2 separate regions of the Homo sapiens genome follow, and region 1 is linked to region 2. The links come from fine-mapping of genetic effects on gene expression. A gene starts in region 2. The other region holds a variant in brackets. All regions are shown on one strand. Distances are from middle to middle.

The links. PIP is the estimated chance that this variant, and not a neighbour inherited with it, causes the effect.
Region 1: its variant is fine-mapped to the expression of KAT14 in whole blood (TOPMed, PIP above 0.99).

The regions. Positions count from the first base shown.
Region 1 is chr20:18,164,188-18,167,100 of GRCh38, forward strand. The region is part of intron 7 of KAT14 (lysine acetyltransferase 14); the gene reads left to right. Among named protein-coding and RNA genes, the nearest start is that of PET117, 28 kb to the left of the region's middle. The variant A/G (reference allele first, on the strand shown) is at 1,234.
Region 2 is chr20:18,136,274-18,139,186 of GRCh38, forward strand. KAT14 (lysine acetyltransferase 14) reads left to right here and starts at 1,590. Exons shown (of 11, transcript NM_001392073.1): 1 at 1,590-1,778. PET117 (PET117 cytochrome c oxidase chaperone) reads left to right here and starts at 1,590. Exons shown (of 2, transcript NM_001164811.2): 1 at 1,590-1,778. The coding sequence starts at 1,683. RefSeq lists a silencer at 1,959-2,078.

The DNA.
Region 1 (2,913 bases), 28 kb after region 2:
ATTAACTGGCCTGCCTACCAGGAGCCAAGTCGGGAGGGCCCAGGAGCCCATCGTTTAGGAGGTAAACTGACTCTCCCTGTCTTCAGTACAGTACTCCCACCCTTGGCTTCCTGTGTCCAGAATCTCCCTCTTGAGCCTCTCCAGTCTTCTGCCCGTGGAGGGAAAGATCATTTCCTAGATGTGGGCAGTATAATTACTATAGGGGTATAATTGGAGCCTTTAACCTCTTAAAGAGCCTCACAATCCATAGTCATACCCCCCAGGCTCTAAGCCTGATGCCTTAGGTGACTACACTTCCCTGAGGCTGTGTTTTGTAAATCACCCTGCTTAGCTTCACCACTGGCTTAGGTATTGGCTTTCTTTGGTCTGTTAAGTCATTTGCTGCTTGTTCATATGCTTTTGTTAGTCATCTATTCACTTGTTCTTGTTCTTTTTTTTTTTTTTTTTGAGACATGGTCTCTCTCTGTCACGCAGGTTGGAATGTAGTGGCACAACCACAGCTCATTGCAGCCCCGAACTCTCAGGCTCAAGCAATTCTCCCACCTCAGCTTCCCAAGTAGCTGGTACTATAGGCACACACTACCACACTCAGCTAATTTTTTTTTTAATTTTTATTTTTAGTAGAGACAGGGTCCTACTATCTTGCCCAGACTGATCTCAAACTCCTGGGCTCGAGTGATCGCCTCAGCCTCCCAAAGTGCTGGGATTACAGGCATGAGCCATTGCGCCTGGCCAATATTCACCTGTTCTTTGTTCTTATTCTTGTGGGCCTGTCTGTTTACTGCCTATACTTAATTTTTTAAATTGTAAGATGTGTCATACAGATAGAAGGCAGCATAGAAATATGGTATAATTTAGATATTAGTAAAATAAATGCCCATGTATTCATCTCCTGGATAAAGAGTGTTGTAAACACCTTAGAAGTCTCCTGTGTACTTTCTGTTCCCCTCAGAGGAAGCCACTTTGACTTACAGTGTTAATTATTCTTTTGCTTTTTAAATGTGTATGTCTCTAAATGATATACTTTTCGTTTAAAAAAATACTGAGTAGCAAGCATAAATCTAGCTGTGTAAGTAAATTGCCACTATTAGATGAAGTTTCCTGGAGAAGATAAGCTAAATAGTCATTCTGGGTCATTGTTGTGGACTGAATTGTGTCCCCCTTAAGCATATGTTGAAGTCCCAACCCTGGTACCTATGAATGCAGCCTTATCTGGAAATAGGCCCTTTGCAA[A/G]TATAATTAGCCAAGACCACCAAGGATTGCCGGCAGCACCAGGAGCTAAGAGAAGGGCACAGAACAAATTCTCCCCTAGTGCGTACCCCAGAGAGCATAGCCCTGCCCACACTGTGACTTCTGACATTTGGCCTCTAGAACTGTGAGACAATAAATTCCTGTTGTTTTAAGCCACCCAGTTTGTGGTGCTTTGTTCCTACAGCCCTGGGAAACTAATACTTACAGTGATGTTCTGGCTTCGGCTTCCATGAACCCCTTCTGAGGTAGTCACTGGCCAAGGTCACTAGGGAGTCCTGGGAAACATGAGGCTCACCATAGCGTATGCATCAGCCAGGGCTGTGATGTATACCAGAGATGCGGCAGAAATCTGGGCAGAGGAAGTGGGATCCTCTGTATTTCCTGCCTGAGCTGACAGCTTCCTTCCAGCTTGCAGAAGGTCAAAGCAGTTATTTGTGGAGTGAGCATCATCAGCTGGTCTTTGGGGTGGGCATGGGTGGTGTACAGGAGGCTCACCTGTACATGGTGAAGACAAGCTGAGCGTAGATAAGATTCTGGGCCACGACGCCATAGGTTTAAAAGATGGTCAGTGGCAGCAAGGACTTAAGGATGATAGCCTCAATATGTGTTAGAAATACCAAAATTGTTAGAAATAGATAATCGGTGCTGCGAAGAAAAGTCAGCACAGAGACAAAAGGTATCTCAGCAAGGCCATCTTTTCTTTCTGTAGAAAGGGTGCTCAGTTGCAGATGGAACAAAGGTGAGAGCACACTTGAACACAGGAAAAGCAGACATATTTATCCCTTACGCACTTGGGTCGTCCTTACTGCTGTGTCCTGCATCCACTGGCTGGAGCGGGACCTCACAATCTTAAACTGATACCCGATTTGCTAATAGCCTAAAACTTTCCTAAATAGGTAAGTGCAGGGAAGAACAAAGAAGTTGCTTACAAAAGGTTTAAGGAAGCAATAACATTTCCAAATAAGGAAGGGGCGTAGACTGTGGGCTGGAACGTGCCTGTGAGCATGTCCAACGGTTACAGAGGATAGGGCTTAACAAAGAGTTATTAGCACAAGGCAAGGAGACTTGAAGAAAGTTAGTCTTTAAAAGAAACTGTTATTTCTAACACTTATGATTTATTCTTTAACAAGAAGGAAAACTTTGAAGAGGAAACTTTTTACTTTCTACACTATGTCTGCCCCTTGGGTCACACTTGTTCACCCTTTGTTGTGAAACTCAGCAGGGGTGTTGGGATCTCCCCTCTCTGGAGATTCTTTTGCCCTCCTCTGTATTTGATCTCCTGTTTCCTGTGGCCCATCTTTACCTTGTTATAGGTTTATTCCCTTGTTCTTAATGACTTCCTGAGAAAAGCTGCATGGGAAGTAAAATTTGAGACCAACATACTGAAAAGACCCTCATTAAGTGAGGTTGAACCTGGAATTCCATACACAGCCACATTGTCTAGGTGAGACCTCTGTTGAGGACCACTGCACTTCCTTTAGGTTTTTTCTTTGAATCTAGTCAGAGTCCCTGGGGAATAATCTTCTGGGCTCAGGATGCTGGTTGCCAAGTTGGGGAAGAGGGACCTTAGCATTCAGCTTGTCAGGTACTCACACCTCAGCCCTCCAGCTGGATCCCCTGTTAGTTCTCTAGAGATCAGACCTCCTGGCTTCTGGGGGAGGG
Region 2 (2,913 bases):
TGCTTAGGCTTATAAATATTTAAACAGATAAACATACTTTTTTTTTTTTGCAAGACCTCCCTCAGTCCCCCAACCCACTTTTTTATTTGACACAGTTAATAATAAATGATTTCTTAAAAGTAGAATACTTTTTTTTTTGCTTCTAGTATCCTGAAAATAAAGAAAAGAGTACATTTCAAGAAAACAAGTTGAAAAATTAGTCACAATAAAATGAAAGGCGATTGATCTAATTCCCTGATGTACACTCTAAGGACATACAGCTCTGTTGAAGGCTCACTGATTTACAGGGGAAAATATCTAGGATATACCACGAATAAAAAGAAGTCTAATATAATTTTTAAAGAGAAATATGCAAATACACCCTGAACTGAATTTCTTCTCAAAGTTCATTACAGCAAGAACTCCATTTTCCAATTCAGTGGTACATTCTCTCTAGGCTGCAAAAAATGCTGTGGACAAAATGACATTTGGAAAAGGTATCTTTAAAGATACCTTTAAGAGCAATAGTCCCCTTATGCCATTTACGCTCACATAAGAGACTGGAATAGCAAAGCACTATGAACAGTAATGAATGTTGTAAAACTCCCTGGTGAGGCTTAATCAATACTGCCTATAGCCGTGTCCACCGGAAGAAGCTCGTTCTCTGTGAATTCTAGTGGGAAAGAATGATTGAATGATGAACACGTTTTCACTGGTTGCTCTATCAGATACTTAAAAGTTTCTGGGAGGCCTTGCCTTTTTTACCCGAGGAAGAAGTGAAAATGCGTCTTGCACAATTGCTTAACTATTCCCAACGCAAGACTTCTTTATATCATTTATTTCCCTTGTATTACTGGCGCGGAAACTTGGGTGTAAAAGTGATCACAAAGATTACATGGGGCCAGGCGCGGTGGCTCACGCCTGTAATCCTCTCGGGAGGCTGAGGCAGGAGAATCGCTTGAATCCGGTAAGGTTGCAGTGAGCCGAGATCGCGCCACTGCACTCCAGCCTGGGCGATAGACAGAGACTCTGTATCAAAATTATAATAATAATAATAATAATAATCCGAGCCTGACCAGTCGCCCCACAGCGTCAAGGTGAAACCAGGTGACCGCGACTACAGCGTTTAATAATGGGTCCTCAGGCAAAAACTCCACGGATGGGAACCCCGCGCCTCTGAAGCTGCCTAACGAGGCGGTCTCCTGGTGGCGCCTGCCCCGCCAAAGGAGCAATGAGGGGGCTGCGTTTAGGCGAAGCCGGTATTGGGCGAAGCTTCTGGATCAGTCAGGGGCTCAGAAGGGACGTCTGTGGGAGAGGGGTCAGCACGGTATCCAGACCCCGCCCGGGGTGAGGTTGGTACTGAACTGACTGAGGGGCATGGAACCCCCACCCTCCACCCTGGTAAGGTGCCGGGGCCAGTTTGGGCCGGGACTCCTAGAATTTGAATCGGGGGTGGTCTAACGCTGTCGCCTGCGGGGTGTGCAGGAGGCCCCTAGTGAAGCCAAGAGTTCGTAGAGCCTGGGCGCCGCTCTATGCTCGGCTCTCGATTGCTCACGCCTGGCAGCGGCGAGCGGCGCACGCGACGGCTGGGGCTCTGCGCTCGAGGGGTCGAGCCTGGGCAGTACAGGCGGCGGTGCGCACTCTGCGGCGGCCTCTGCGCCTCGGGCGGGCGGGAGAGAGAGGCCGCGGCCGCCAGCGTGGGGATGTCTAGGAGCTCGAAGGTGGTGCTGGGCCTCTCGGTGCTGCTGACGGCGGCCACAGTGGCCGGCGTACATGTGAAGCAGCAGTGGGACCAGCAGGTCGGTGTCACGTGACCGTCTCTTCCGGGCCCGCGCGCGCGGCGTCGACCTGGGGCCTCTCGTGGTCTCTGCCCGCTCGGTTCCTCAGCTCCTCTTCGTGTCTTTCCCCCGCGGTGGCGCGGCCCTGCACCCCACGCGTTTGCGGCTGCGGCCGGCGGCCGCTCTGCTGGGCTCCGGGCGCTGCAGCTCCCGGCGGGCGTGTGCAGCCCGCAGATTCAGGACGACCCGGCTGCCCGGCTTAGCGCCTTTGGAGCTCCGCGCTGAAGGGGCCTTGCTCCGCACAGGCACGGCACGCAAGCTTTTGGGGTGCCCAGTGGCTCTGTTTTCAAGTCACAGCCGGCCCGCAGGGTGCGGACCTTTCCACATCTCACTTGGGCCGCTAGAAAATAGAAGGTGGGGAAGGAGTTTCTTGGGGTGCATTCTGCAAGCTACCAGCCTCCCTCCTGGCCCAAGGTTGGGGTTAAAGCCTAATGTGTTTTACGTGCTATTGATTTTATCCCATGGTAAGGGAGCCCCCCTTCCCCGTACTCACTCTCCATGCCTTTGACCAAGATAATTTGGTGAGATGTTTGCACTTCTCGTTTAAATGAACAGTTTGCTATGGAAACTAGAATCTGGGAACGATAGAGATAACAGTCTCCAGATTTTTTTTTTTGGTACTTTTATTTCAGGAAATATCCGTGACCTGCTGATCAGCAGTGACTATTCTGTCCTCTCAGTTCATATTTTCTTTCTTATTCAAGTTGACAGACCTTTAATGGGTGATTACTGTGTGGAAGCTACCTCACTAAGCACCTTGGGAATACAAAGATAAGGAAACTCCACTCTTCCAGAGTCTATCAGTGATTCACGACCTTGCTGAGAACAGGGTCATTGGTGAATTTTCAGAAAACAACTTGGCAGTGATTGGGGTTGAACCTAGTTCACCAAGGGTGAAAATAATGGACTGGATGAATCAAGAGTAAACAGTCTTTTCTTGATTTGCCTACCCAGACCTTTGGACTGTGCTATGTGCTTGATATACAGAGATGAAGTGGATGAGGTCTTTGTTCTTGGTGTTCACAGACTGTGGAAATTAGAAGAGAGGAAGCATGTGATGGTACAAGAATTTTGACGAGGGGTTGAGATGACTTAA